6 separate regions of the Homo sapiens genome follow, and all the other regions are reported to be linked to region 1. The links are microRNA targets in miRTarBase. Many come from high-throughput screens and were not tested one by one. Region 1 holds a microRNA gene; each other region holds the end of a gene's coding sequence.

The links. The annotated mature microRNA hsa-miR-429 reads UAAUACUGUCUGGUAAAACCGU and lies in region 1 at 2,882-2,903, shown strand. An mRNA with a match to its seed (bases 2 to 7 or 8) in the 3' UTR can be bound and repressed. Matches are read on the target gene's strand: a 7mer-m8 pairs with bases 2 to 8, a 7mer-A1 pairs with bases 2 to 7 and ends in A, and an 8mer does both.
Region 2: miRTarBase lists WNT16 as a target of hsa-miR-429. Seed matches in the 3' UTR shown: 7mer-m8 at 913-919 and 8mer at 1,986-1,993.
Region 3: the mRNA of M6PR is a reported target of hsa-miR-429. Seed matches in the 3' UTR shown: 7mer-m8 at 3,687-3,693.
Region 4: miRTarBase lists PHF14 as a target of hsa-miR-429. The part of its 3' UTR that is shown has no 7-base or 8-base seed match.
Region 5: the mRNA of KLF11 is a reported target of hsa-miR-429. Seed matches in the 3' UTR shown: 7mer-m8 at 2,724-2,730.
Region 6: miRTarBase lists CRLF3 as a target of hsa-miR-429. Seed matches in the 3' UTR shown: 7mer-m8 at 3,690-3,696.

What each region holds. Positions count from the first base shown.
Region 1 is chr1:1,166,174-1,171,247 of GRCh38, forward strand. It overlaps MIR429 (microRNA 429), which reads left to right and starts at 2,832; the gene lies at 2,832-2,914. It overlaps MIR200BHG (MIR200B, MIR200A and MIR429 host gene), which reads left to right. Exons shown (of 2, transcript XR_007065348.1): 2 at 1-4,165. MIR200B (microRNA 200b) reads left to right here and starts at 931; the gene lies at 931-1,025. MIR200A (microRNA 200a) reads left to right here and starts at 1,690; the gene lies at 1,690-1,779. RefSeq lists an enhancer at 4,633-5,074.
Region 2 is chr7:121,338,895-121,343,967 of GRCh38, forward strand. It overlaps WNT16 (Wnt family member 16), which reads left to right. Exons shown (of 4, transcript NM_057168.2): 4 at 1-2,210. The coding sequence ends at 451. Among named protein-coding and RNA genes, the nearest start is that of WNT16, 12 kb to the left of the region's middle.
Region 3 is chr12:8,937,245-8,942,310 of GRCh38, forward strand. M6PR (mannose-6-phosphate receptor, cation dependent) reads right to left here. Exons shown (of 7, transcript NM_002355.4): 7 at 3,117-4,696. The coding sequence ends at 4,574. PHC1 (polyhomeotic homolog 1) reads left to right here. Exons shown (of 15, transcript NM_004426.3): 13 at 1-82; 14 at 585-816; 15 at 2,061-4,223. The coding sequence ends at 2,215. Among named protein-coding and RNA genes, the nearest start is that of M6PR, 9.9 kb to the right of the region's middle.
Region 4 is chr7:11,169,207-11,174,280 of GRCh38, forward strand. PHF14 (PHD finger protein 14) reads left to right here. Exons shown (of 18, transcript NM_001007157.2): 18 at 210-412. The coding sequence ends at 284. Among named protein-coding and RNA genes, the nearest start is that of PHF14, 200 kb to the left of the region's middle.
Region 5 is chr2:10,051,613-10,056,686 of GRCh38, forward strand. It overlaps KLF11 (KLF transcription factor 11), which reads left to right. Exons shown (of 4, transcript NM_003597.5): 4 at 615-3,224. The coding sequence ends at 895. It overlaps CYS1 (cystin 1), which reads right to left. Exons shown (of 3, transcript NM_001037160.3): 3 at 4,861-5,074. Among named protein-coding and RNA genes, the nearest start is that of KLF11, 11 kb to the left of the region's middle.
Region 6 is chr17:30,779,545-30,784,618 of GRCh38, forward strand. It overlaps CRLF3 (cytokine receptor like factor 3), which reads right to left. Exons shown (of 8, transcript NM_015986.4): 8 at 3,140-4,899. The coding sequence ends at 4,643. It also overlaps the pseudogene SUZ12P1. Among named protein-coding and RNA genes, the nearest start is that of CRLF3, 43 kb to the right of the region's middle.

The DNA.
Region 1 (5,074 bases):
TGCAGAGAAAGGGTGGGAAGGAGGACAGGAAGGACGGCGTGTCCAGCGGGCGGGGAGCCTTGGTCTGGCCTGAGGGCTGAACCTCCCTCGGGTCCTGAGTGTGCCTGGAGTAGAAGCCTAGGGTCTCTGGGCTCCAGGCAGGGCCCTGAGCAAGGAGGGGCCACAGGGCTGCCCACTTCCTCCTGCCCCCCTGCAGAGGCGGCTCAGCCCTCGCGGCGTCTGAGGCTTGACTGCCTGTGTCTGTGTTTGTGGCCGGTCTGCCTCTGTGCCTGGGTCAGACCCCAGACCAGCAGACACACAAACCGCAGGGACGGCTGGGCAGGGTCAGGAGCCTGCCCCGCCCGCACCCCCACCCACACCCCCACCCCCACCCCCGCCTGCACCCCCTGCCCTCAGACGCTGTGCAGTGAGCGGGGCAGCATGGGAGAGGGGTCTCCAGGTGGCGGGGACCGTTCTGTCTCGAGAGCCTCGCAGACACCGGGCCTTTGAGAAGAGAAGGGGCTGGGCAGGGAAGCAGCTCCTGGAACACCATCCTGGAGACAGAGGCCCTTGTCCCCTGCCTCAGACAAGGCAGCACGTGGGGCCCGGGGGGCTGGGGCTGCTGTCCAGGCCTTCCTATGGGACCACCCAGAGGGAAGGTCCCCCGCAGAGGGGTGGGGGCAGAGGGCCGAGCGGGGCGGGCAGAGGGCCCGTGTCAGCCCCACTCCGACCTAGTCCTCGGCCGTCTGGCCAGGACACTTCGGCCCCCCAGGTGCCCACCCCAGGACCCAAAGCTGGTGGCTGCTGGACTCGGCAGGGCTGGCGGGTGGGGCTCACCCGGGCCCCTGCCCTCCGGCGATGCTGTCCTCAGTGCCCCAGGAGGACGAGGCCCCCCAGCTACTGAGCTTCCCAGCGAGTCCCATGCAACCCTCAGCCGGGCGGCCCCCGGACCCAGCTCGGGCAGCCGTGGCCATCTTACTGGGCAGCATTGGATGGAGTCAGGTCTCTAATACTGCCTGGTAATGATGACGGCGGAGCCCTGCACGCAGCGACCGGCCGACCCCGTCCCGGCCCCCAGGGCCTCCCGCCGAGCCCCACACTCCCCTCCCACACAGCCCGCTCACCGGACCCCACCCCGTCCGGGCCAGATGGCTCTGGGGAGAGTGACGGGGGGACGTGACCTTCGGAAGGGGGCTGGGGCGCCCCCCACCAGCATCTCAGAGACCCCGGAATGCAAGGCCTCCTGCAGCTGCACCCAGGGCGCCCCACAGTGATCTGGGGATTAGGACGCTCAGGTGTCCGGGCCCTGCCCACAGCGCCTGGGCGGGAGCTGCTGTCACACCCAGCAGGTGCGGGCCGAGCAGGACCCAACAGAGGGCTCAGGAGGGCAAGGCCCAACCGGGAGCCACGTGGAACCCAGAGGAAGCCGCCCCACCCAGCTTGGCCACAGCCATCTTCCCTCCTGCCGGACAGGGTGGGCCGGCCACCGAGCAGACCAGTGCCCCCGCCTTGGTCCCGGGTCAGCAGCCCCAGGGTCCCCTTGCCCTGGAGGAAGCAGGGAGGGTGGGCCTGTGTGCAGTCTCAGGGCCCCCAAGCCCCTCTCCGCCAGCCCTGTCCGGTCCCGGCACCACCCCTGGCTGCTCACCGCTCCGGTTCTTCCCTGGGCTTCCACAGCAGCCCCTGCCTGCCTGGCGGGACCCCACGTCCCTCCCGGGCCCCTGTGAGCATCTTACCGGACAGTGCTGGATTTCCCAGCTTGACTCTAACACTGTCTGGTAACGATGTTCAAAGGTGACCCGCCGCTCGCCGGGGACACCACCGAGGCACATCCGGAGCTCCTACTCCAGGGATGGGCTGGGGCGGAGGGCCGAGCGGGGCCAGCAGACGGGTGAGGGCGGAGGGCCGAGCGGGGCCAGCAGACGGGTGAGGGCGGAGGGCCGAGCGGGGCCAGCAGACGGGTGAGGGCGGAGGGCTGAGCGGGCGGCAGAGGGCCTGTGTCAGCTCCGAAGTCCAGCCCCCAGGGGAGGGGCCGGCCTCTGCCGGGGGTGCCCCCGGGGTCACTCACGCCCAGGCTGGGTCTGACACCTTGAGGACCCCTTGGTGCCTCCACAGGTGGCCTGGAGGGCATCCTGCTCCCCCTCCCGGAGCCGCTGTGCCTCCCCCACCCAACCTCCCAGGCTGGGTTTTAGGGTGACCTGGCTCCAGGAAAGGCCATAGGGCTGGGATGCCAGGGCTGGAGAGGGAAGAGCAACAGTGGCCTCTCTCACGTGGTCCGGGCTCCGTGGAGGGTCTGCTGGGGGCGCAGGAAGGACAAGGTGGGTTCAGATTCCCGAGCCCCACCATGCAGGGGAGCGGGGACGCTCTGCGCTTGCCCTCTGAGGGACAAGGGGTCTCATTCCTTCCCCCAGTCAACAAGAACAGGAACTTTGTCCAAAACCCACCAGGCCAGGATGACCCATTGTTTCATCTTTTCCATCTGCAACCAGGGCGCCTGGGACCGCACCCCCACACAAGGCCCCAGCCTGGGGAGGGGGCAGCCACCGGGGAGAGGCTGCCCTTCACTGTTACTCATTAACCCGACCGAGCTTCAGGAAGCCAGCGAGGGGCTGCAGGGAACCTTTGCCAAGAGCAGGGCCTGGGTGACCAGGTGGCTCCCGGGTACCCCCACACAGCCAGGCTGGGCTGGGACCAGGTGCTGGGATGGGGGCTGTCAGGGAAGTGCCTCGGGGGCTCGTTCTGCAGACCCAGGAGGGATCAGGGCAGCTGCAGGAGGTGGCAGGAGCCGCCCCCGGGGCCTTCCCTTCACAGGCCCCGCAGACACCAGCCCAGGACCCGGAGGCCACCCACACCACCGCCGGCCGATGGGCGTCTTACCAGACATGGTTAGACCTGGCCCTCTGTCTAATACTGTCTGGTAAAACCGTCCATCCGCTGCCTGATCACCGTTAGAGGAGAGAGCTGCCTGCCCTGCAGCTCATCAGTGCAAAGCCGCCCGGTCTGGGGCTCTCATGCCCCCCTCACTATGGCCTGTGCCCATCCGCAGCCCATCAGTGCAAAGCCGCCGGGGTCTGGGGCTCTTGTGCCCCACCCTCGCCATGGCCTGTGCCCACCCGGCCTCCTGGGGCCCTCGAGCTGTAGTCCCCGGGCAGATGCTGTGGACCCCGTGCTATCAGCCTGGCCCCTGGGGTCACAGTCACAGATACCCGGAGCCCCACCCCACAGCCCCAGCCCCCTCGCCACCTGGGGAGGCTGAGACAGAAGCAGCTGGGCCCCCCAAAGTGCCTGAGCCCAGGGCACGGAGGAGCACAAATGCCCAGCAGGGACAATGTCACAGCGTCTCAGCGGCCAGGCAGCAGGACGCAGAGACCTCTGGGAGGTTCCCGGGGCCAGCCCTGGCCCTCCTCCTCCAGGGGCCAGCCGTGGGATGCAGACCACACTCTCCCTCCAGGGCCCATCTCTGGGGCTGAGGCGGGCGGGGCCGGTGCCCAGCTGCAAGACCATGGGATAGGGAAGGCAGGTGCTTGGGGCCACGCAGCCCTGCACTGGGGGCCCCTCCACCCCAGGCGGCTCACGAGGTGTCATCTGGAGCTGTCCCCAAGCCGGGATCTGCAGGTTGACCTCCCCCACCCGGGGCTATCTCCAGACCCTCTTTCCTCCCTGGGGAGATGGGGCAGTCCCCCGCAGGGCCAGCTGAAACCACCCCCATGCTGCTGCCGCCTGAGCGACGTGTGTGGGGAAGAACTTGGAGTGCCACCCCCAGAATGTGGCGTCCACCTCACCAGACCGCACGGGTGAGCCCTGGACTGCAAGGTGCATATAACACAAGGTTTGGACACACCTGGAGAGCTCGGGCCAGGCAGGGCCACACCTGTGAGCCTGAGCTCATCCAACACCGCCCGGAGCTCGGGGACCTTCCCCATCCCAGCACCTCCTCACCGCTGTGCCCGTCTGGCCAGTCCCTCCAAGCACCCCTCGGATGAAGTTGCGCCCCACACTGCAGTGGGGCTCACTCTCCACAGCGCCTGCTGCGTTGCACGGGGTGTGACAGGAAGGACCCTGCTGGGGCTGGCGGGGCCGTACCCAGAGCCTCCCTGTGCGGTTTCTCCTCCTCCTCCTCCTCTCCATAAGCACCGGGAACAAAACAGAAAAAAGTCTTTGTATAGTAATAAAGTCTGCAGTTCACGCACCCATGCTTGGACCAGCTCCTTATTTTAACCACACGTGCACAGACCCCCGCCGTGCAAAGGGCCCAGCTGAGGACAGAACCCCAGACACTGCATCCGGCCCCGGAGGCCCCCAAGGTTCCTGGGAGAGGCTCCCTCCCTCCCTTCCCTCCTCTTTCCCTCCCCCTCCTCCTTCCTCTCCTCCATCCCTCCTTCCCCCTCCTCCCTCCTCCTCCTCTCTCCGTCCCTCCCTCCCTCCTTCTTTTGCTCAGGAATCTTCCCTGACTCTCCTGTGGTCAGCTCAGGTCAAGGTTCTGGGGGAAGGGGGAGTCCCTGAGTGGAGACACCTCAGCCTGTGCTGAAGGGAGCTACCGAGGGGGCAGCCGGTGGCCCTGGGGGGCCTCTCTGAGCAGGTGACCAAGAGCGTATGGTGCCGGCCAGCAGGAGCGAGGGCTGCGGACAGGATGGAGGCAGCCAGGCGCCAGCCAGGAGGGCTTCCTGGTCCAGCCACACCTGCCCCGGTGACAGCCACAGGTTGGTGGCAAAGGGGCCACCTCCCTTCCAGTGGCAGGGCCTGGCCTGCCTGGAGACCCCACCCACTGCCCGAGAGGTGCCAGGCCTCCCCCATTCTGCCTGGCCCTGGGGGCTGCACCCACCTGGACACGCGGGCCGGGCACACCCACGGCCCAAGGTCCTGCTCCCACCTGCCCTGCGCAGGAACCTTGCTGGGGCTACAGGTATCCGTGGCTGCCACACCACCCAGATTTTGGGATTAAGGGGCAGAGTTTTCAAGTTTGAACTCAGGAAAGCTGTGAGGGACGAGGTAGTGCCTGGCTGGGGAGCCTGGGGGCTTCTGAGGGCGGTGGGGAGTCCTCAGGCCTGTGTGGGGCCCCAGGGAGGGGAGGCTGCAGGGGTTGGGGGACCTGCCCGCT
Region 2 (5,073 bases), not on the chromosome of region 1:
GATGTCAGTAGACTGCCGCTGCCACGGAGTTTCCGGCTCCTGTGCTGTGAAAACATGCTGGAAAACCATGTCTTCTTTTGAAAAGATTGGCCATTTGTTGAAGGATAAATATGAAAACAGTATCCAGATATCAGACAAAACAAAGAGGAAAATGCGCAGGAGAGAAAAAGATCAGAGGAAAATACCAATCCATAAGGATGATCTGCTCTATGTTAATAAGTCTCCCAACTACTGTGTAGAAGATAAGAAACTGGGAATCCCAGGGACACAAGGCAGAGAATGCAACCGTACATCAGAGGGTGCAGATGGCTGCAACCTCCTCTGCTGTGGCCGAGGTTACAACACCCATGTGGTCAGGCACGTGGAGAGGTGTGAGTGTAAGTTCATCTGGTGCTGCTATGTCCGTTGCAGGAGGTGTGAAAGCATGACTGATGTCCACACTTGCAAGTAACCACTCCATCCAGCCTTGGGCAAGATGCCTCAGCAATATACAATGGCATTGCAACCAGAGAGGTGCCCATCCCTGTGCAGCGCTAGTAAAGTTGACTCTTGCAGTGGAATCCCTAGAACCTTGGACCTGAGAGTTTCCCTTACCTGATCGACATATTTTCCTTTATCTGATCAACCCATCAATCATGTGGATTTCTTGGGATTCTAATGTTGAAAAGGTTTATATTCACCTTTTGATGATTTGGGGAATATATATTGACATACAAGGAAGATAATCTGTTTCCTAAGCAAGAAATAACAGGAAAGATCCCTTATGCCAGGAGGCCTGCCATACTCAGGATAAGATCCTTGAATATGGAACTTAGTTACAGGACTCAATAATGGTGGGTGAACATTAGTCATTTTTAAAAGACACCTCTTATAGCAATAAGGAGACATTAACATGAATCTCATTTATTCTCTCAGTATTTTAACTGAAGAAATTATACTGTTTGTGTGTGGATAGAAGATGTTGAAAAGTTAACATAAGCATTGGGTGCTGACTTACCCTTTCATGTACTTCCAAAGAAAGGTAATCAAAAAGAATCTTCTTAAGTGATATAATATCCCTAAAAAAATGATCATTACAGATGTTTAGTGACAAAGAATCAATATGTAAAAAGTATAATGAATGATTTAGATTTTAAGTGCCTTTTCACTGGGAGAATCTGGAAAAACCTCCATAAGGTATATAGCAATCTTTGATCTTTAGATTCATACTTTTATCACAGATCAGTTTCAACTGTTAAAAACCCACCTCTGAGATACTGGGGGGAGGATCCTGAAACATGCGGGAAAAGGAGAGGTAAACAGTGGAGGTAAAAATATAATTTCATACATTGTAAAGAAAAGCACCCTTTAAATGTGTAAAGACAGTGTTTTGTAAAGAATTTTGTTTAAAAAGTTTCTATTTTGTAAATACAGTACTTAAGTTATATGATTTATATTAAAACATTTATTGACAAAGCCTAAGAGCTAAGGCAGTAAAATTATCTCATAAATAATATTAGCTTATTTTTTTTCATACTATTAATGCTATTTTTTTGGACATCGAAGAGAATTTAACTTAGCAGTTAGTTATATGGATGTGTATTTCTTGCTAAAATGACAGTTTTATATGTTATAGATTAAAATATGTTGCAAAATATCAAAAATTTGTGTTATTTCAGCAGTAAGATTAATTGAATTCTCTTTTCACATTAGTTATGCTTAACTCATAAGGTTATTATAATAAATTATATTAGTAAAAGTCTTAACTGGAAAAAAGAATCTAAATCAGAATAGTGATCAATTTGTGGATTTGATATCCTGGATATTTATTATATTTTATGTAATGCTGCATTTCTATTTGAATGTTAAGTGGTCTTTCTTGTTTTTAATATTCATGCATGTATATTCATCATATTTTACAAGGTTCCTGGTAAAAATTACAGGGCTCTATTTAAGGATGTATTTTAATGTAAATGCTTATGTTTTTTATGAATTGTTAAATATTTCAGTATTATATAGAAAAAAATAGATTTTTAAAATTCAGAATGGACAAAGAGAATATTCATTTTCTTATTAATAAGATAAAGAAATGTTTCCCTGCCCCACAGTCTTCATTCTATTTCTCTTTAATTTTATTCACTGAGGCAGAGAAACAATTTTTGAAAAAGAGCAAACCCATGGAAAATGTCTCAGATCTAATATTAAAATCAAGACTAAGCATTTAACTGTGATTGTAAAGTTTGACAAAGTTATTATTTACTAAATGAGAGACACAGAAATGGCAAATATATGAATATAGTGCATATTTAAAAGTGGTTTTCCAGTCTTTAGCATCCCTTGAACAGAATAATCTGAAAATATACACTCTCTCCTGCCTATTTTTTTCAAAGTAAATCTATTTTGTCTTCTTTGAACATAATCACCCATTTTTAAAAAACAGAAAGACTGTAGTGTCTATTAACAACCAATTTCTTCTATTAATTAGAAAACCTTTCATAATTACCTTATCAACTGACTGTGAGAATCAGGCAGCCTCTAATTTACAAAGACTTGATTACTGTTCAGCCATTCCTTTAAAACAGTGATGCTAACTCAGGCACCTCTCTCTGGGATGCCTAAGCAAAAACTCCTCCTAACTCCAAACCTGTGTCTTTGGGTTCTTCTTTTCTTCTCACCTTTGGTATCACCATGGAAGCCATCCTTAAGTTTCTCACTTTTTTTTTTTTTTTTTAAGACAGTCTCACTCTGTTGCCCAGGCTGGAGTGCAGTGACCCGATCTCGGCTCACTGCAACATCTGCCTTCTGGGTTCAAATGATTCTCCCGCTTCAGCCTCCCAAGTAGCTGGGATTACAGGCATGTGCCACCATGACTAGCTAATTTTTGTATTTTTGGTAGAGACGGAGTTTCACCATGTTGGCCAGGCTGGTCTCAAACTCTTGACCTCAAGTGATCCACCCACCTCGGCCTCCCAAAGTGTTGGGATTACAGGTGTGAGCTACCGCGCCTGGCCATCACCTATCTATCTCTCTTATTGGCTGACAGCCTGCCCTTAGCCCATTTCCATCCCACTCCCAGTCATGGTAGAGGAAGCACCATGGTGCTCCTGGGAACACAATTCTGGGACCCAAAGGCTCCTATCTAGTCTAAACCACATTGCCTGCATTCATTAGGGCCCCTTATGTTGCAAGTAATGGAAAACTCAACCCAGACTGATTTAAACATTAAATATGTTGACTCAGTAACTAAAAACTTCAAACTTGTGACTGGTTCAGGGGAAGCTTGATCCACAAGCTCACACCATGTTCCCTGGGCTCAGGTCTCTCTATTACTTTAGGCTGGCTACTGGCCAAGTCTTCTACTTCAGGGTTCATGCAGTGCTGTGTCCTAACCTCTTTCAAAGTCTCCCACCCCTAGCATCTCTGGGATCTCTACTTTTCTTAGCAACATGGCTGCCATGCTTCCAGACCTCACATTCTCCTACCTGCCACTCATTCTAAGGAAAGAGGGGTCCCATCCTCAAGAAAGAGAGGTTCTCTCCTGGTTTGCTCACACAGATGGAAAGAAAACCTTTTCTTTCTCAGAGGATTCAGCAAAGGTCTTCTGAGTCTCAGTGGTTCTAATTGATTAAATGTGCCTCTCTCTGAAAAAATCACCATGACCATTGGGAGTTTTGGGTGAGCCATAGGTACATTGAACCATCTTAAGGCCATCATGACCCTGGAAGTGGAAGTGGGATTCCCTGGAACTAAAATTACACAGCGTGAGAACAGAGACGGGGGTGGTTTCCCTAAAGGAAAACCAGGGTGTTATGTTACTGGTAAGGAGTACCTGGACGCTGGGCAGCAAAGACATTATATGCCTTAGTTCTAGTGAGCTGTTTAGGAAACAGCTTTTGATATTACATGGAGCTCACAACAGACAAAGCAAGCCCTAAGCACTGTGGATTATGAATGTGGGTTCAAAGTGCTTTGATTTGTTTAAATACCTTGCATAATGTTAAAGGGCGAAGGGAGGTGCTCCAGTGGATTATTTTTCAATTTAGGAGTTCAAATTCTTTGTAAATTTGGAACTGCCTAATAAAGGCAATGGTAAGAGGCAATGATTCATCCTGAAACAAAGTCAAGAAAAACATATTAAATGATATTATCTGTAACATCTGGATTAGGAAGTTGAATAATTAAGGCATTTTCCTGATAATGGTACTTTACACAACATTAACAACATGTTAATTCTTTTTAGTATAAACAACTGCATTATTTCTTTATTCACAATTCGGATGATAGTCATTTTGTTTTCTATTTTAAGAGACTATGATAATTATATTAAAAATAACAACAAAATTTTAATTTTACACATTAGATGCTGTGACCTTATGTTTTGGCAGCTTTAAAACTATGTGATATGCACAGTAAGTATTTTAAAACACATTTTAATTTTCTCCAGGACTGTTAGTACTAATATGATATTTGTACTTAGTTTAAATATTTGTACTAAGTTTATTTGTACTAAGTTTAAATACGTAGTAGAAACAGAAAAGCGTCTCATCAAAATACTTATTTCTAGGCAATTTAGTGAGTTGCTCATCCTTTTTGCATCACCTCCCAAAGGTCATCAAAGATTGAGAAATTCGACTCACTATTTAGAGGCAGGAAGTGATCTGGAACACTGATTACCTTAGGTGATTTGAGGGAAGAAAAATTTGAATCCTATCTTCAGAAACCTCAAATACTCCTCAAGACAAGCCTTTCTTAAAGAAAGTTGGCTAAGATGTCTCCTTTTTGAAATTAATTTAAATTTTACTATAGACCAGATGTGATAAATCATGACATTTCTTGGGGGCAAGATGATGACACGTGGCACAGCATGACAAGGGACACAGTGATACACAAGGAAAGGACTAATTTACTTTGAAAGAATAAATAATATTAGCAAATACCTCCATAGCACTTAGTATATACCCGTATTAGTCTAAGTAAAAAATATATAGAGAGATACATATAAAAATTCAATCTTCACAACAACCTCGTAAAGTAGGTACATTATTGTAGTTTTCGTTTTACAGCTGAGGAAACTGAGACACACAGTAAGTTCCC
Region 3 (5,066 bases), not on the chromosome of region 1:
CTATGCTCGCGTTCGCAGGCGTGGACCCCGCCGCAGCTCCTCTGACATTGCCCGTGCCAAGATTCAGGGCAAGTGCCACCGGGTGAGCTGCTTGTTGTAGAGCCAGATGCCTTTAAACTGGGTCTTTTTTTCTTTCCCTGCAGGGCAATTCATTTGCCCAGGTAAGAGGGTGTGAGATGAGAACTCTGGTTTCACATTGATTGCATTACTACAAATTCCAAGAGATCCTGACCCCCTTTGTCTCCGGACCTCTTACCCAACTACTGGTTCATGTTTCCATTAATCCTTACACTGTACTTGAGTACAATTGTTAATTGTACTCAATTGTACTCAATTTCTCTCAATTGTACTTGAGAGAAAATCTAGATCAATTGTTAGGTCATGGGGAGAATCAAGGAAGTGATACAGTTTCTATTTGAAAGACTTTGAGAGTAGATTTTGGGAATTTGCAAATAAAGTGCTGCTTATTTCACATATGATAAGATGAGTTTTTCTTCTACGCCCAACCCAGGGTGGTTTGGGAAGAAAGAGAGAGGAATAAACCTTTGACACTGACCTCATTGGTTTGCTCTTTTCCCCTATAGGGTCAAGAAGACTCTAGCCGGGGTTCAGATAATTCCAGTTATGATGAAGCACTCTCTCCAACATCTCCTGGGCCTTTATCAGTAAGAGCTGGGCATGGAGAACGTGACCTGGGGAATCCCAATACAGCTCCACCTACACCGGAATTACATGGCATCAACCCTGTGTTCCTGTCCAGTAATCCCAGCCGTTGGAGTGTAGAGGAGGTGTACGAGTTTATTGCTTCTCTCCAAGGTACTGACCCTCTCTTCAACAGAACCCAGGTTGTTTTCCTTAACATCATCCCACAGGGGCCTTGATAAGAGGGAAAGTAATTGACTTTTAAGCAGTAGGAGCTTGAATGCTAATATAGAGGCTCTACTCCTAATATTCAAGTTGACTTCCTAATTTTTTTCTGGGTTGACATTATCTTCTGTAATGTCAGCAATTTTACAGTGTTTGATTCTCATCTTATGATGTAGCTGCATTTCTCACTAAATTTTTGGATAAAATGTTTTTGTGTAATTAACTATGATACCTCCCATGGGGAAAAAATTTTTTTTTTCAGTGGAGCAGGGTATTAGAAACTAAGTGGCCATTGTTGCCCCACTCTTCAAAGAGGGCTTGTTTGCTAGTCTTCTTTTTTTTTTTTTTTAAACAGAGACAGGGATTCCCTATGTTGCCCAGGCTGGTCTTGGAGTCCTGGGCTCAAGAGATCCTTCTGCCTTGGCTTCCCAAAGTGCTGGGATTATAGGTGTGAGCCACTGCACTCAGCCTATATGCAATTTTGACAAAGAGTTTTTTTCGGAAATGAAAATCACCCTACCCTTCTTGCTATTTGTCTGAATTCTGGGCCCTTAAACAAAAATATCACAAAGAATCTTTTTGCCAGTATAAAAGAAAACATGCTTTTATTTCTGTTCTCTCCCTTTCCCCTGTCTCTAAGCTATTTGAATGAAGTTATTTCTGTGGTTGAACAATTTAGTTGCTTTTCCTTTCTTGGTCTTGGACTTTGGTTTTGTTGTTGTTGTTGTTTTGAGACAGAGTCTTACTCTGTTGCCCAGGCTGGAGTGCTGTGGCATGAATTTTGGCACACTGCAACCTCCGCATCCTGGGCTCAAATGATCCTCCTGCCTCAGCTTCCCGAGTAGCTGGGACTATAGGCATGCATCACCATGCCCAGCTGATTTTTGTATGTTTTGTAGAGTCAAGGTTTTGCCATGTTGCCCAGGATGGTCTTGAACTCCTGAGCTCAAGTGATCTGCCTGCCCTGGTCTCCTAAAATGCTGGGATTATAGGCGTGAGCCTCTGCACCTGGCCATTTTTTAAATACCAGTTGCTTTCTAATTTCATTTTGCTTTTAAAGCTTGCCATCTGACTTCATATTACTGAATTTAGGACAGGTACTTTGGAATTAATCATTGCTAGACCTCAGTTTCATTTAGCTTCCCTTCTCCTATCATCTGGCATTACCTACATGTTCTCACCATTTCTTCTAGGCTGCCAAGAGATTGCAGAGGAATTTCGCTCACAGGAGATTGATGGACAGGCCCTTTTATTACTTAAAGAAGAACATCTTATGAGTGCCATGAACATCAAGCTGGGCCCTGCCCTCAAGATCTGCGCCAAGATAAATGTCCTCAAGGAGACCTAAGGTGGCCCTCTTGCACAAACCAGCCTAAGGCAGACACTCTCCACTGTCCAGGTTATAACCTGGTACCAGCAGACTTTGCAGGGAAGAAAGAGTTGTTCCAATCATGTAACCTTCTGTAGGGGATTACTGAGACAGGGAAGAGAAGTGCAAGAATTGGTTGCTGGTGCTACATGGCGGCAGCTTTGACATTTTCTCTGGGTTCTACTTTATTTTTTAAAATCTTTACAGTTCTCACCATTTCACGTACCTTAATCCAATCTTTATAAAAGAGGCAGTCTAGAGAACTAGGACTGCTCAGCCTTATCCTGGAGTGGAGCATTTAGCCCAGGTCTTAATTCTCCAAGAGGAGGAATACATAGTATGGTAAGGCAAGGAACTGGGTGGAATGTCAGGTTGCCTGCCCAATGGGAGAGGTAGGGTTTTTCTAGCTTGTGTGACAGAAGTAGCAAAATCTGGTCCTCCCCCCTCCCAGTGTAGCTGTGGCTCAGAGTTTTTTCTTTTTGTTGTCACTTACTCCCTTGTGATTGAATTTTTTCTCCTGCATCCATGGCAGGATCCCCAGCCAGTATAGAGACTTGGTTGGCATCTTCTGCTGCAGGGACTAAAAGTATTTGACTGGGGCACATGTGGCTGTTGTCATTCTTTCTGCATCCCACTGTTCCCCTCCAATTTATGTTATTTTCTACCCTGTTTTTCAGTTCCATCTCTGCTCTGTCCTATAGCTTTATAAAACCAGAGTGTGTGGGGCTGAGGTCAGGAGTATAAGTACCTGCCTTAGGCACTATTCCTTATATAACAAAAATATTAAATATTTTTTTCCTCAGTAAAAGGATGAAAATTGGTTTCAGTTGTCTTACTCTATTCCAGTCTTTGCCCACTTTCACACAAATGACAAGGCCAATATGTTTTGTTTGTTTTTTAATCATTAAGAGTTTTTGTACAAAAGGTGATGGTTTTTTTTCTTCATTTTAAAACACCAGGGTGTGGGGGAGGGATGCAAACAAATAACAAAAAAGATGCTTTTGTAACATTATTTTCCCTGTTTAGAAAGAAAAAAATCACTCCAATAGTATTGAAAAGTCCAAAGATGAAATAGTTTCATTTTCTTTTCCTAAGGCTTATAAAAGGCCCCCTGCCTGTTGATTCCATCCCTCTTTTGTGTCCAGTGGAGCCATGTTACTCTTCAGTGGCCCAGGGGTTCACTATTAAAGAAAGATCAGTCCAGGTTTCTGGGCACATGGCCTAAACAGGAAGATGGAAGCATCAGAGGATTAAAAACCTTTCCCCACAGAAATGTGGGCAAGAAGACACTTCCCTGAGCCAGCAGAAGGGACAGGTGCAGCAGCATTCCACACCCAGCGCAGAGGACAGCAGAGCCCTCGATGTCCCACTTCTGCTTCCGTTCCCTTTCTAGAAGATTGAAAAAAAGGTCAAAACCACATGCCTGTGGAGAAAGTGCGACATGTTTAGAAATACTGGTAGGGAACCAGGAGTAAGAAAAGCTTTACCAGCTTTTACTACAAATGGATGAAAGACATCAGGATCCCACCACCGCAAGGTAAAGTGACTTCCCTTTTCTGGAACCCCTGTGGCACAGGAGTACCAATTTTCCTTTCCAACGAACTGGATTTCTGGATAGGCATTTTGGCTGTATGTGGACAGATAAGACCACAGTCCTTAGCCCAATCCCAGCTATACAGTCACCCCAATTTCCACAAATGATGTGATGGTACCGTATAATCCTGTAATTGGGAAATTTCACATTTTTCCTGTCCTAATCTCAGAGGTGGGAGAAGCAAGTCTAGAACATCTCCAGGCTCAGACTAAACGAGAGTACTTGGACTGCAACCAAGTAATCACTGCAAAGTAGTTCCAAGCAGCAAGAAATACCAGATTCTCATGGAGGCTACTATAGGGTACAGAATAACAACATGAAAGCAATCAACCCTGTATAAATAATGTTTCTTGGCATTTTTTTTTTAATTAAAGAAATCCAGTGTCTCAAAAACTTGTGAAAATGTGTTTAAAAAACAAACGGCCAGTGAGCCTGCTACACCATTTTGCCCATATGCCTATTGTAACTTCTGATGTCAAGAGACAATGCAAAAGCCTCTGTTTTCACAGGCCCTATTATATTAACTCTGACTTACAACTGTACCTCTCTAGAGAAAAAACAGAAAATAAGGAACAAAGGGAAGGCAGTTTTACTAGTGAGAAGATGCAAATCAAAAGCAAACTGGAAAGCAAGAGCAATAGTAAGGGTGAGATGAGGGACTGGAGTTGAGACTGCTTGAGAAATCTGGCTGTGTAGCTTTGGTTTGGGGGACTGAGGAAGAGGCTGGACATATAAAGTGCAATCTACATTGGTAATAAATGGTCATCCCTTTCTTCTGACTCCTCCCCCAGCTGGTCATCCCCCACACCACGATATGCTGCAGGCACATTTCGAGGTTTAGAACGGCAGACAAAGTCACAGCCATCCTGTAGGGGGAAAAAAAAGAAGGAAATAATTCGCAGCATCTAACTTTAGGATATGAGAAAGTGTACTTATGGTCTAGGAATGTGGCAAGAATTGGTTTTCTATAGGGATAATGAGAAAACCTAAAAGATCTGACAATCAGCCTAAATTCAATTTGGGGCAACAGGAGAAAAAGTTTCTTCTTATTAGGCCTCACCTTCTTCCCACCCAGGCCCTCTTAAAAGCTAAATCAGATTTAGAAGAGCCCATCTGGTCAACAGTGTTGCTCTTTCAGCAATGTCTTACCAAGGCCAGAAATGGATGCTGTGCCACTTACTACTCTGTACTAGGGCAACTGTCTTGTTTGCTGGGACTTTTGTGGTTTTAGCACTC
Region 4 (5,074 bases), not on the chromosome of region 1:
CTTTTAAAAACATACAGAAAATTTTAATGTGTTCTATAAAACAGCACCTATTGCAAATATTTAAATGTTACATAATTTTACCATTTGTGTTTAGGATTATTAGAATCACAGTAGTTCATAGTTCTACAGATGCAGTTAAAATCTGTCAAGTATAGCTGATAAATGCTCTAAAGTTTATATTTTAATGTTTTCTAAAATTTATTTCACAGGAAGATGAAAATGAAGCTGAAAGAAAAAATATATCTCAGGAGCTCAACATGGAACAGAAAAATCCAAAGAAATAAAAGATTTTCTGTAGTGTTTTTGAAAAGTTTGCAGCTTATGTAATAGCAGATAAAATTTCTAATTGTAAAATGTTAAATTGTAAAATCTAATTTGCAAAATGTTCTCAATAAAGTCATTCAAAATGAAATAGGAGCTTGTATTTGGAATTCGTATATTTTAGAGTAATTTCGACTTTTTTATTCAAAAGCTGGACCTTTAAAAGTTTTTAAAAGGAGAAAAATTCTTAACTCAAATTTGAGAACAGAGACAGAATGTTATTTTTTTTGTAACCTAACTGTTAACACATTTAAATGACCTAAAAAAAAAACCTCTGAAAGTCTTTTTTCTTCTTACTAGACTCTGTGTTCTTCTTTAAGGGCCTTAACATAATTTTGATTATCAATATAAAGAAAAACCAACATAGTTCAAAAATGAACAGGGAATGCTTGCACATGAAAATGGTTAAAACCAGTCAATGCCACAAGGAGAAATACTGTTTCCTGATTTCATCTATTTATATATTACACGATACTCTAGGACTGCAGGGAAAGACTAAAAAGAAATGATAATTTGACGGTCTCTGGCAGAAGTAATGCCATGATTTATAATTTATAAAACATTTACTAAGGACCTGCTGTGTGCAAGGTCCCACACACTATTCCTGGACATTTCAAGAATAGTTCTTTTATGTATTTCTTTGGCTTAGAAATTTTTCAAAATTCACCTGTCCCCTGTCTTTATCAGAGTTCTCAGTAACCAGCCTCTTTACTCTCCCCGGTTCTAATTTCCAAGCTGCCATTTGCCAATGACAGGAAGAGCAATGAATCTGCTTGCTATTTGCAGAGCCAAGTGTTTTTGGCAGATGTCTTTGTTTGATTATTTAAGGCAGAGTTTCTTAAAATGAGAGGCAGAGCTTTGGGAGGCTTGCAAGAGAATGTGAGAGTGGAATCAGTGTATTTGCCTTGAAGCCATATTATATGCATTCAACAAGCCCAATAAATGTGTGACAGCAGGATACGCTGGCAGCTATGATACATTGGGCTGAGATGGAGGAAACTGCAAGTAGTTAAGACAGAAAAATCAAAAGGATAGTCTCAAATAATCTCAGTACGCATGTCAGGAAAACAACTAGAGCCCACAGATGGGATCCCTGGACTAATGAATTCCCTGGATGAATTTTGGAGCAAAGACTTTAAGCCAAAGAAAAGGTTGAGATGGCAGTTCAGAGTCTGCAGGGAGCCTTTGCAATAGGCAAATATAAAAATTAATTTGACACTTTTCCCACATCAATTTATTTCAAAATACCCACATTCACATAGATTTGGGTCATATCAGTAGTTTTACTTTTAAAAAGAAGAAATAATACATGATTCACATAAAAGCTAACATGTTACAGGTACTATGCTAAATGTTTAACGTGTCATGCCACTTAATTATCAACTTACAGGTTAGGTACTGTTGCTTTTACCATTTTACCAAAGATCAATCCAAGGCTTAGACAGGGGAAATAGATTAACAAAGGTTATGTAACTTGTAATTGGCAGAGTAAGAGTTCAGACTCAAGAGTGTTACCACAGAATATGACACTTAATCATTGTGTAATACTAATACCATATGTCATTTGTTCCACTGTCTTTCCTAAAAATGTACAGTCTTATTAGCACTTCATTCATCACCTGCTTCCTCTTTAGTTATTTCTCTTCTCCAATCTCTTAGTTGCGCTTTAGTTTATTTTGAAGACTTTGATTTAAGTAAAATAAGTGAAAGCATTGTAACCACTATTCTGTGTGCTCCGTAACATGCTAATCCTGCTTTATGTTTTTTTTTTTAACACCAAGTTATCATGGAACAAGGATGGAAGCACCTATTTCTTCTCTAAGATTTTTCAAGAAATTTTTGGCCATATTTTTCAGCAGATTGTTCAGTTATTAGTATGCTGTTATCTCATCATTTCACACTTGCATTTATGAAATGAAACTGTTAGTGTGAGTCACAGTGACACTTAGCCACCTTGCAGGCATTTTAAATATTAAATTTAAATGGTATCTTTGATCATTTAAAACCCAGTTTTCCTTTTCAGAAAGTTTTTCGAAAATATATACCCCTTGGTTTAGGATGGTCAGTAATAAAGTAAAATCAATTTACATTTCCTTTAGGAAAAATTTCTGTATGAATCACTCAGATTTTTAGGGCTCATACCATTATGTTGTGTATATACACATATAAGTCTTAGAATGCTACAAGATTATGTGACTGTGATTAAGCCAGTCGCTTTATTTGAGTCAAATGTTTCATATTTTATATAGAATGTTTTACATATTAATCGGCTCAGGCTGCCATAACAAAATATCTGAGTGGGTGGCTTAAACAACAGAAAATTTTTTTCTCACAGTTCTGGAAGGTGGAAGTTCCAGATCAAAATCCAGCAGGGTTCAGTTTCTGTTGAGGACTGTCTTCTGGCTTGCAGATGGCCTGCATCCTACACGGCCTTTCCTTTGTGCACGCACAGAGAGAGGGAGGAAGTGAGTGAGCCTCTGGCATCTTCCTGTAGGGACATTAATCCTATCAGATCAGGATTATGATCTCTTAACCTTAATTCCATCCTTACTGCAAATACAGCTACCCTGGGAGTTAGGGCTTCAACACAGGAATTTCGATGGGGTGGGGGAGGAGGGACACATTCAGTTCATAATACATTTAAATAAAGTCCAAGTACCTCTGTTATAATAATTCTGAGCTATGTTAAGGAGCACTGGAGCAAAATCCCAATGAAATGTCTATGGCAATATAGATTAGATGTATTTAGGGAGAGTCCTTATAAACGTTGATAACTGGGATATCTATCTATAAGTCGATTTCTAAAGAAGACAAACCACTAAAAAAAAAAGGAGCTGTTTTGTTTACCTCTTTATCCCTATTACCTAGCTCATTTTTTGGCCTATACTAGGTGTAACACTGTGACTGTAAGTCAGCCTGTAACTTGCACTGTAGAATACCCTAAGAACAAGAATTTTATGATACCTGTATAATTTTTACTTACTGAACCGAACTATCTTCTCTTCATGCTAGTTATTTGAGTTGTATTTCTTCATACCTTCCAAGAATTTAAAAATAAAAGAACTTTAAATGAGTATTTGTTTCTATCATATTTAGGAAAAGCATGGTTTTTTAAATTGTATCCAGTATCATACTCTTTCCTCCAGTCTAGGGAACAAATAGCAGAAGCGGGAAGGGATATTATGCTACTCTTGAATGGAAATTGCTGGGCACTAAGATGCTCAAGTTTTTTAAATCATTCAACAAAGCTTTAGTAGGACCTACTATAAGATATACTGTTCTGCTTATCACTGGGGATTCAATGACAGACAAGCTTACTGTGCTGTTACGGTCTTGAAATTCTTAGCTTTTGAAAAAGAGACCCCATGGTTTTATTTTTCACTGACCTCACAGATTACGTAGTAGATACCACTAATGTTTATACTCTTTAAGTCAATTTTATTGGAGTATATTTTACATAAAATTCACTCATGTTGTATGTGCAATTCAGTAAGTTTCAACAAATACATATATTCATGTAACCACCTCTCCAAGATATAAAGCATTTCCATCACCCGAAAAGCTTCTGTCCTTCAGTTTTGCAATCATTTACACACCCCCACTATAGCCACCGATCTACTTTCTTTATTTGTTTTCCCTTTTCTAAGACTTTATACAAATGGAATTATATCACACACATCTTTTGTGTGTGGCTTTCTTCACTCAGCATAAAGTTTTGACATTCATCCAAGTTATTGCATGACTTCATTTCTTCTTATTGCTGAGTACTTTTCATTGTGTGAATATACTACAATTATACTGTGTGAATACTACTACAATGGAATATATACAGATGGCCAAAAAACACATGAAAATATACTCAACATCATTAGTTATCAGGAAAATGCAAATTAAAACCACAATGAGTTACCACTGTATACCCGCTGAAATGTCTATAGCTCTGTTATCAGCTATATAAACAGCAGCTATTAAAAATGTGTAGCTATTGAATACTTGAAATATGACTAGTCCCAATTGAGATGTGTTGTAAACATATAAATCAGATTTTGGAGCTAGAGTGCAAAAAAAAATCCATAATTTTTACTCTGATTACATGTTGAAATGATAATATTTTGAATAGATTTGATTAAAATTTTAAAATAAATTTCAACTATTCTTTTTAAATTGTGGCTACTAGAAAATTTGAATTTATATATTATAGTTTCCATTGTTTTCCCACTGGACGGGCCTCCTGGGCTATAATTTGAAGGCCGATAATGAAATGTTGGTAAGGTTATGAAGCAACTGGAACTCGTCATACATTGTTGGTAGAAGTGTAAAATGATACATTATTTTGGCAAAGAGTTTGGAAATTTCTTATGAAGTTAAACATACCCTTAATATACGACCCAGTAATTCCACTAATAGATATTACAAAAAGAAATGAAAGCATGTGCCCTCACAAAGATTTGTACATGAATTTTTTTTAAGATCTTGCTATGTTGCCCAGGCTGGATTTCAACTCCTGATCCTCCTACCTTGGCCTCCCAAAATGCTGAGAGTACAGGCGTGAGCCACTGTACTCAGCCTTGTACATGAATAACTTTTTATTATTTTTTTTTTTTTGAGACGGAGTCTCGCTCTGTCGCCCAGGCCGGACTGCGGACTGCAGTGGCGCAATCTCGGCTCACTGCAAGCTCCGCTTCCTGGGTTCACACCATTCTCCTGCCTCAGCCTCCCGAGTAGCTGGGACTACAGGCGCCCGCCACCGCGC
Region 5 (5,074 bases), not on the chromosome of region 1:
GTTCACACCATTCTCCTGCCTTAGCCTCCCAAGTAGCTGGGACTACAGGTGCCCGCCACCACACCCGGCTAGTTTTTTGTATTTTTAGTAGAGATGGGGTTTCACCGTGTTAGCCAGGATGGTCTCGGTCTTCTGACTTTGTGATCCGCCCGCCTCGGCCTCCCAAAGTGCTTGGATTACAGGCGTGAGCCACTGCGCCTGGCTGGATGCTACATTTTTAATTAATTTATTTTTGTTTTTTGGTAAAGATTGGGTTTTACTTTGTTGCCCAGGCTAGTCTGGAACTCCTGTGCTCAACTGATCGTCTCCAGCCTCCCAAAGTGCTGCGATTATAGGTTTGAGCCGCTGTACTTGTACTTCGCCTGATTTATTTTTAAATATATTTTGAAAGATTAGCTTGAAATCTTTGGGTGCTAACATAGCTGCATCTTAAGTGTGGGAGGAATAAATGCCTTTTGGAGGATTTCTTGACCCAAATCATCCAATTCCAGAGTAATAAGATACCACTTTCTTCTGAGTTTGATGAACACGATTTTAAAATGACATGAATTAACCCCTTGAATAAGGTGCTTAGCGTTTCCTTTCTCTTTAATATGTATTTTCTCACCTCACAGGGGAGAAGCCTTTCAACTGCAGCTGGGATGGCTGTGATAAAAAGTTTGCTCGTTCGGATGAGCTGTCACGCCACCGCAGAACTCACACAGGGGAGAAGAAGTTTGTGTGCCCGGTGTGTGACCGACGTTTCATGCGCAGTGACCACCTGACGAAGCATGCCCGGCGCCACATGACGACCAAGAAGATCCCAGGCTGGCAGGCAGAGGTTGGCAAGCTGAACAGAATCGCCTCTGCAGAGAGCCCGGGGAGCCCACTGGTGAGCATGCCAGCCTCTGCCTGAAAGGTCCATTAGGACATCACTCATGGGATTTTTAAAAAGCCTCTTTCCAGGAATGGAACTGATGGATTCCTCTCCCACTGCCTCACCCAAAAAAAACGGTCTTGGCGGCCTAGGGGAAGATCGGGGAGCTGGTTTTGATGAAAGTATGTTAACTTTTCTTTTCCACTTGGGACCCTGTTCAGTATCTTTTGTAGTTTCAGAAGTTTTTTTGTTTTGGTTTTTTTTTTAAAGAAATGGTAGAAAATTTGATAATCTGAATCACCAGCATTCAAACAAATATTTCGGCAATAAAGTTTACAAAATCTGGATTTTTACAACCTTTTCTATTGATGTTTTGTAGAAATAAGACAGGGTACTAATTTTTATACTGGTTTTTAGAAAAATATTTATATTGTTGGTGCTCAAATCACCAATTTCTAGCTAGATCATTTTGCAGCCTTCTTTTCAGTGTTTAATAACAAAGTTTTTCCTAATGGCCCTTCTTTTAGTAAACTGGACATGTTATTCCACTACAAAAACCACAAGTTATCTGGCCTTTTAGATCTTTTTGGAATCGGACCTGGTTGAGTAAGGACCTCTTAAAAGGGAAAAATAAATTTTGCCGTCAGCTTCTTCATAACGTTTTCAAGGAAATTCTAGGCAATCATTCCTGTCACCAAAGAACTAAAATTTTGGTTGACTGGAACTAGTGAGCTGTGTCCATGGTGTGTCATGAAGGATGTACCCCAGAGAGTAACATGAGCCACTGGGCAGATCCCAGGGACCAGTACTTGCTGCAGGATCTAGTCTGTAATAGTCTTGGCCATGGCTCTGCTGAAAGCAAGCCATTCAGTTTCTTGTTTGTACCTAAAACACCAAAAAAGAAACACTCAAATCCAGCTGCTTTGTCAATTGTCAGTTCTGACTCCTTTTGCTGTGGCCTTATCCGTACTATATTGTGGGTAGAGTAACTTCTCAGAAAAAAAGGAAATGTCTGTATTGGTTGGATGAAACTCCACCAGAGCACAGCTTAGCTGGGGCGAGATGCATGTGAAGGCAGGCAGTGCCAAGATTCCGCTTCCTTTGTTTGCCAAATACTAGAAACACAAGGAAATGCAAGTTACGCTAAATGGCAGTAATACTACCCAACTGCCTTTCTGTTCATTTTGTTTGAAGGAAATTGTTTTGACCAAACAGAAAATTACTTGGAATGGTGTGTTTTACAGTCTACCTAGAAAATAGATGGACAATATTTTTCAACTGTATGAGCACGTAGATAACCGAGAGAATGTGGCCACCTGTGTTCAAGAAGCCACTGATACTGGTTTTTGTTAAACATTGGAAGTTCAGGCAATGGAATAAATGTAGGAACATACAGAATGTTGCACTAATTTGGTAGCCTGGGAATTTTTTTTATTGTGCAGTATGTATTTAAATTTTGTCTATGTTAATTACCAGCATTTACCTTTATTTAAATGATGGTAAGGTGGAATATTGAATAAAATTAGGTTTTGTGTTTTGTTCTTTGTAGTCTGATAAAATCTCCACCTGGTCATTCATTGTGTGTGACTTGATACCTGTTAACTTGCCCCTTAGTATCAGCTGTTACTTGACACAAATGTGTGTGTTATTCAGAGGTTTTCAGTCTGGACACTCCATAGGTGAGTGTCGTGTCTTCGTGAGACAGCACAGTTGTCTCATGTTGTGCATAGTTCATGTTTCCTCACCACCCAGTCCTTTCTCCTGCTCATCAAAATCAGCATACACATTTTTGACTGTACACACTATAAATGGCATCAAATTTGGATATTTTTCTTAATTATGACATGCAAAGTAATGTGAGTCCTGCCAGTATTCTGGTGGATAAGGTCTTTTGAGTATTTGGTTGCTTGTCACAACATTCTCCAAGCAGTGATATTTCTAAAGAGGAGATACATGTTGAAAACGGTTTTAATTTACACTTCCATTTCCTGATTACATTTGGAAATACTTTGTGTAAACCATCCCCCTTCCACCTCCATTTGTCTGTTGAAAGATTTTAAGTTGGAAACAGTTCCTGTCTGAAAACTCTTCTGAGAACCACAAACCTTGTGTATGGATTCGGCATGGAGCCCTCAGCTGGCGGCTCTGGGTGCTGACGGCCGCTGGAGAGGTGGGCTCCCCTCGTGCACTTTATTGCCTGGGCAGTTTTGCTTGATCTTTTGTGACTTTGAGCCTTTTAAGTAGTTTGAATGATAAGACTTAAAATGTTTCATAATTATGTTTTATGTAACAGACTTTGACATTATTTAAACGAGCATGTGTAATGTAACTTTTCTCTTTGAATCATATAAAACTTGATTTTACATTGGATGTGTGTCCTGTGTCATTTAACTGTACCTGGTGGCCTAAGTATACCTAGAGACTTTTTGGAAGAATCTATAAAATTCATTGTGTATTGGCTCAAACTAAACTCTCCTCTTTGTTTTCTGGAGTTTTATTCTGTTTCTTTGGGTTCTTTGGAGGGTTCTTTCTGAAAAAAAATGTGTGAAGCGAGCTGAGTATGGTGGCTCACACCTCTAATCCCAGCACTTTGGGGAGTTGAGGCAGGAGGATTCCTTGAGCCCAGGAATTCGAGGCGGCTGTGAGCTATGATCATACCACTGCACCCTAGCCTGGGCAACAGAGCAAGACGCTGTCTCAAAAAGCCAACATGTGAAGTGGCCACTCTGGCAGTGGGTCTGGTCCAGACAGACCCAGTAGTGTGCCGGGTGACCCTGTGGCCGTCAGTGCTCGTGCCCTTCCTGTGCCAGGGGGTGGCTGCAAAGAGGTAGAATTGAAAGTGGTTTTCCAGCTACTCTGGAAGAAGTGCTTGGAAGTCTTCCATTATTTCCTTCCACCCCTGGCCCAGGATTGCAAAGTACATCATGGAGCCACAGGCTTCACTGTTCCTTCTTTTCCTTCCCAACTCTTAAAACTAAAGGCTGCCATATGTCCTCAGAAAACACAGCCCCTGCCCACCTCAGAAAGTCCGATTTGTCCCCAGGGGGTCCAGACCCTCACCACACAAAAGGTCTGATTACGGAGCCTCCTTCTAGAGGGAAGTATTAGAGCCGCAAGTGTGATTATCCCTCTCGTGGCAACTGACAAGACTTTTCTCCTGCCTCATTATTGCCAGAAAGGAAAAAGGAAAAAAAAAAAAAAAAAGCCACGGATTCTCTCTTCCGTGAGGTGCTTGGCTACACTTCGACAGCCTTATGCTCTCCCATGTGCTCACACGTGCACGAGCGTGCCCCACTGCTGGGAACAGAGAATGCTCTCACGGATCCACCAATCAATGTCAGCAGCAGGTGTCCAGGCAACGTGGGTGAGTGGGGACAAGTGGCCCTAGGTCTTTGGAACAGCAGAGGAAAGTGTCTTAGAAAGGGCTGTCTCAGGGAGGCGCAGGGAACCTGAGCCAACAGCAGCCGAGGGAGGAGGTCCCTTCCTGGGTGAGGCTAGGAGCCCACGGGCCGGTGAAGAGAGACTTGGGAACACACATGTCAGGAGGAGGGCAACAGCAGGACTCTGCTCCTTCCCTAAGAAAACACACCCAGCATTTCTCAGAGCCAGGGGTGGACAGTGTTTCCTCAGTTCCTGCGGCTTTGTAGCATCTTCGAGGAACTCTCATACTACAGAAACCAGAGACACATGGCCGGGTGTGGTGCCTCACGCCTGTATTCCCAACACTTTGGGAGGCAGAGGCGGGCGGATCACAAGGTCAGGAGTTCGAGACCAGCCTGGCCAATATGGTGAACCCTCCCGTCTCTACTAAAAATACAAAAAAATTAGCCAGGTGTGGTGGCGCATGCCTGTAATCCCAGCTACTCGGGAGGCTGAGGCAGGAGAATTGCTTGAACCTGGGAGGCGGAGGGTGCAGGGAGCTGAGATCGCGCCACTGCACTCCAGCCTGGGCAATAGAGTGAGACTCTGTCTCAAGAAAACTAAAAAAGAAACCGGGAGACACATTTGTGGTCACTTAAGATTTTTCCAGACAACAACGTGCGTCATTTTTGCCTTTGAGATGTGTTTCTTTCTGCCTCCATTCCAGCCACAGTCCCATCCTGGCAGTGAGCAAATCCCACACGCAGTTCTAGCAGGACGCTGAGGCTCAGCTGCAACATGGGGCAGCCAGGAAGATGCCTGAGGAGGTGCCAGGCACACAGGAGGCACTGGGACAGA
Region 6 (5,074 bases), not on the chromosome of region 1:
AGTCAGAGCATATAGATTTACTTCTTTTTAAACGTTCTGAGTTTTTTTGTTTTGTTTTGTTTTTTTGGGTTCCTTAATTGACTAAACCAGTGCTGGTCTAATAGATAAGTGGGTTATTTGATTTTTTAAAATCTTGTCAAAAATGTTAATAGTGATTATACTTGAACCTGTATCAAGTATTTTATAAGATAAATTCCTGTGGAGTGCTGTGTCCAAACTAGTCTCTGAACACACTTTTACTACATTCTAGTCTAAATAGTTTTTTGAGATGGAGTCTTGCTCTGTCGCCAGGCTGGAGTGCAGTGGTGCAATTTCGGCTCACTGCAACCTCTGCCTTTCAAGTTCAAGCAATTCTCCTGCCTCAGCCTCCTGAGTAGCTGGGATTACAGGCGCCTGCCACCACGCCCGGCTAATTTTTTTGTATTTTTAGTAGAGACGGGGTTTCACCGTGTTAGCCAGGATGGTCTCCATCTCCTGACCTCGTAATCTGCCGGCCTCGGCCTCCCAAAGTGCTGGGATTACATGCGTGAGCCACTGTGCCTGGCCATTTATTTTTACAGCGAACTACATTTGCCACTGTACTCCAGCTCGCTGTAGCCTCAAGCTCCTGAACTCAAGTGATCCTCCCACCTTAGCCTCCTGAGTAGCTGGCTAATGCCTGACTATGCCTGGCTAATTAAAAAAAATTTATTTTGGTAGAGATGGGGGTCTCATCATGTTGCCCAGGTTGGTCTTCAACTCCTGGCTTCAAGCAATCCTCCCACCTTGGCCTCCCAAAGTACTGGGATTACAGGTGTGAGCCAGCAGTCCCGGCCAAACTTGCTAATTTTAATTTGTGTCTTTTTGCTTTACTAAATAGTAACCATGAGTGTTCTGAGCTTTTCTGAGTTCTGTGAGTCCTGGCAAATAATTGAAAGTGAAAGTGATCTTAAGCACCCCTGAACACATTTACCACGCATGGCCCACTTGCATTCATCTGGTATTGGAGGGAAACAAATTTCTAGAGTTTCAGTTGCTACTTTTCAGTTGTTCCATGGTGCTTTCCAGGAGTTCCAGTCGATGATATGGGGTTTCGCCTGTCATCACATCTGTCAGGCTTTGCGCCTTCTTCATCCTGCACAGACACTGAGATCATGCAGGTCTTGTATCTGTTTGTAGTTCGTCTTCACTAGCTTGTATTTTGGGATTTGAGGGGGTAAGTGGTCACCTAGTCTTACTGTAGATATTATCCAGGGGATTTTGCTTTTGTTATCTATCTAGTTGCTCTATTTCTTTGTTTTGTTTGTGTTTATTTATTAAGAGATGGGGTCTACCAATGTTGCCTAGGCTCACTGCAACCTCGAATTCCCAGGCTCAAGCAATTCTCCCACCTCAGTCTCCTGAGTAGCTTTGGAACTACTGGTGGGCACCACAACACCTGGCTAAATTTTTTTTTTTTTTTTTTTTTTTTTTGAGACAGAGTCTTGCTCTGTTGTCCTGGCTGGAGTGCAGTGCCAAGATCTTGGCTGACTGCAGCCTCCACCCCCCGAGTTCAAGCAATTCTCCTGCCTCAGCCTCCCATGTGGCTGGGACTACCAGCGTGCGCCACCACATCCAGCTAATTTTTGTAATTTTAGTAGAGACAGGGTTTCACCATATTGGTCAGCCTGGTCTCGAACTCCCGACTTCAGGTGATCCACCAGCCTAGGCCTCCCAAAGTGCTGGGATTACAGGTGTGAGCCACCACACCCAGCCAAATTTTTTTTTTAAGTGAATAAAAAATGGCTAGGCATAAGCCACCATGCCCAGCCAAAAAATCAATTCTTGTGATCATATCATCACACAAACTCTTCCCTCCTAGCACATAGGTTTGGAGTACTAGGTTCCCTTACTTACTTGAACAGAATGATTTTTTTTTTTTTTTTTTTTTTTTTTTTTGAGACAAAGTTTTGCTTTTGTTGCCCAGGCTGGACTGTAATCATGTGATCTCAGCTCACTGTAACCTCTACCTCCCGGAGGGTTCAAGTGATTCTCCTGCCTCAGCTTCCTGTGTAGCTGGGATTATAGGCATCTACCACCATGCCCAGCTAATTTTTGCATTTTTAGTTGAGACGGGGTTTCACCATGTTGGCCAGGCTGGTCTCAAAACTCCTGATCTCAGGTGATCCACCTGCCTTGGCTTCCCAAAGTGCTGGGATTACAGGCGTGAGCCATCACGCCCAGCTAATGAGTTCATTTTTTTAAAAAAAATCTTCACAGTTCAAGAAAAAAAGTCAGTATTTAAATTAGTTTCAAGGACAGACACAGTGGCTCACGGCTGTAATCCCAGCACTTTGGGAGGCCAAGGTGGGAGGATCACTTGAGGCCAGGAGTTCAAGATCAGCCTGGCCAACATGGCAAAACCCCATCTCCACTAAAAGTATAAAAATTAGCCAGGTGTGGTGGTGCACACCTGTAATCCCAGCTACTTGGGAGACTGAGGCAGGGAAATCCGTTTAACCCAGGAGACAGAGGTTGCAGTGAGCCAAGATTGCACCACTGCACTCCAGCCTGGGTAACAAAGTGAGATTCTGTCTCAAAAAAAATTAGTTTCAGAGTTCCAAATATTACCACTCCTGTCTCAAATTAGGTTTAAGGCACTCCTGTGAACAGGCAGATTCTATAGGTATAAATTAAGATGTCATTTCCCTAGAGAGGCTAAGAAATAAATACATTCAACAAATATTTGATGAATTAAAGGAATGAGATGAAGATATCTGGAGAAAACGACTCATTCGATCCACCATTCATTCTGCACACATTGTGTCAGGCAAGATGCTCAGTATCAGACACAGAATATAGGAAAGTACAAGTAACCAGCTGGGTGTGGTCACTCATGCCTATAATCCCAGCACTTTGGAAGGCCAAGGCTGGGGAGGACTGCTTGAGGCCAGGAGTTTGAGACCAGTCTGGACAACACAGCAAGACCCTCATTCTCTACAAAAAATATTTTTAAAAAAGTTTTTAAAAGAAAGTACAAGAAGGTACACATACCCTTTCACAAGTCACAGTGATATCTTACTAAAATGCCTGGAGCCACAAGAAGCCTGTTTTCCCTTCAAATGAAAAGTAGGTTAAAACTGGATTCACCAAATCTCACAGAAGAAAAAAGTACACACACTGAACTTTTTTAGTTTTTTATTTTGATTCCTATGGCTGGACAAGGTATCTACATTCTAGAACATCTTCTTAATCCCTAAACAAGTGGAAATCTACTACTTATATATAAAAAGACAAGTAGAAAAGGTCATGATTGTCTAACAGGGAACATGAATCCCCAAATAAATTATCTTACAAAAATATCATACTTGCTTTTCTACTTTTTTACTATACTGGTAAAAATGAAATGAAAAAAATAATTCACATTAAAATAAAATCTGTAGGGTGGCATAGAAGACAATTATTTTTACATATTAAAGTCCTTCAAATAAATATTTTACACACAAATTTAAGTAAGTTTTTAAAAAAAATAAGTATTTACGCTATATTTTTTTGCTCTGCTAAAAAGAGACCACTTATTAAACTGACATTAAACTGGACTGCAGCTCATTCTCTGCAAAGAGTAAAATGCATGTCACAGGCAGATTGGATACACACGTGCATATTACATACATATGAAATGGCTAACACTGCTGTGCATACTACTGCCATAACTAGTTTTACCCTGTAAAAATACTGTAGCCTATACTGTATCAAATTGCAATGAAAGAACAAAAGGTACTACTTGCCTATTTTAGACACTTGGTCAAGCATTTAAAAAAATACAAAAATTGGTCCACTGCAGTGGCTCACACCTGTAATCCTAGCACTTTGGAAGGCTGAGGTGGGTGGAACACCTGAGGTCAGGAGTTCAAGACCAGCCTGGCCAACATGGTGAAACCCTGTCTCTACTAAAAATACAAAAATTAGCCAGGTGTGGTGGCCGACGCCTGTAATCCCAGCTACTCAGGAGCCTGAGGCAGGAGGATCGCTTGAACGTGGGAGGCAGAGGTTGCAGTGAACTGAGATCACACCACTGCACTCCAGCCTGAGTGACAAGAGTGAGACTCCGTCTCAACAAAAAAAGAAAAAGTTATAATGTTTTGGGGACTTAAAGATTACTGAAGAGGGGATAAAAGTCAACACTGCTTACAAATACCTGAACATGGAGAGCACAGTCAACACATTCATGTGGACAGCACATGAACGGATGTATTAATACATTACACAGCTTCTTCTATCTGACCTATTCCTCTTGTTCTAAAGAGTTACATGGACTTGGATCCTTTAAGATGATTTTAAAAATAATATTACATTAAGTTTTCCTGGTCTAATAACCAACTTTGAGAAGTACAGTGGAAGGGTATAGAACTTCCTATATCTTCTATACTTTTAATGCCAATTTGATTTTTATTGTGATGTGATATTTAACAGTATGCTAAAAATAAAATTGACTGAATTGTATGATTTTGTCCACAACATTGAAGTCTCTTTTTGCTAAAATATTACAAAATGAATCCAGTAAACACTTTCCAATGGCCTAAGTTAGAGATGAATTCAACTTTTTTTTTAAAGCAATTACAACTACGCTGGGCTGAGGACAGCTACGTTAGACCCTGAAAACCAAAGCCAAGCACCCAAACATCTAAAACACTAACACTTTCCATCCAGGATAGAAAAATGAGCATCCAAAGTAAAGAGAACCACAAGACTGATCAAGTAACCAGTCAAAAACCACTTCTCTATTATTTGAACTTATAGTTACTCGAAGCTTGAAGTGTCCACCTTCATTATTACTGGTGGTTCCTAGAGTCACGGCTTCAATGTCAAACGTGACAGTGGACCCAGAAGTAACTGCGGGTAACTGATTTGTCATTTCTTTTCCATTGACAAAAACTGCACCTAAAATGTTAAGGTAAAGAGTCATTTACATGTGAGCAATAACTAAGAGATCTGAAATAGTTTCTAGATTACTGGTAACACAGCTCATTTCCTAATTCAGATTTTAAAAAATCTGGAATGCCAACTGGACATAGATTTTAGAGTTCTGTCCAGGGTTGTACTCTTCCAGCAGAGA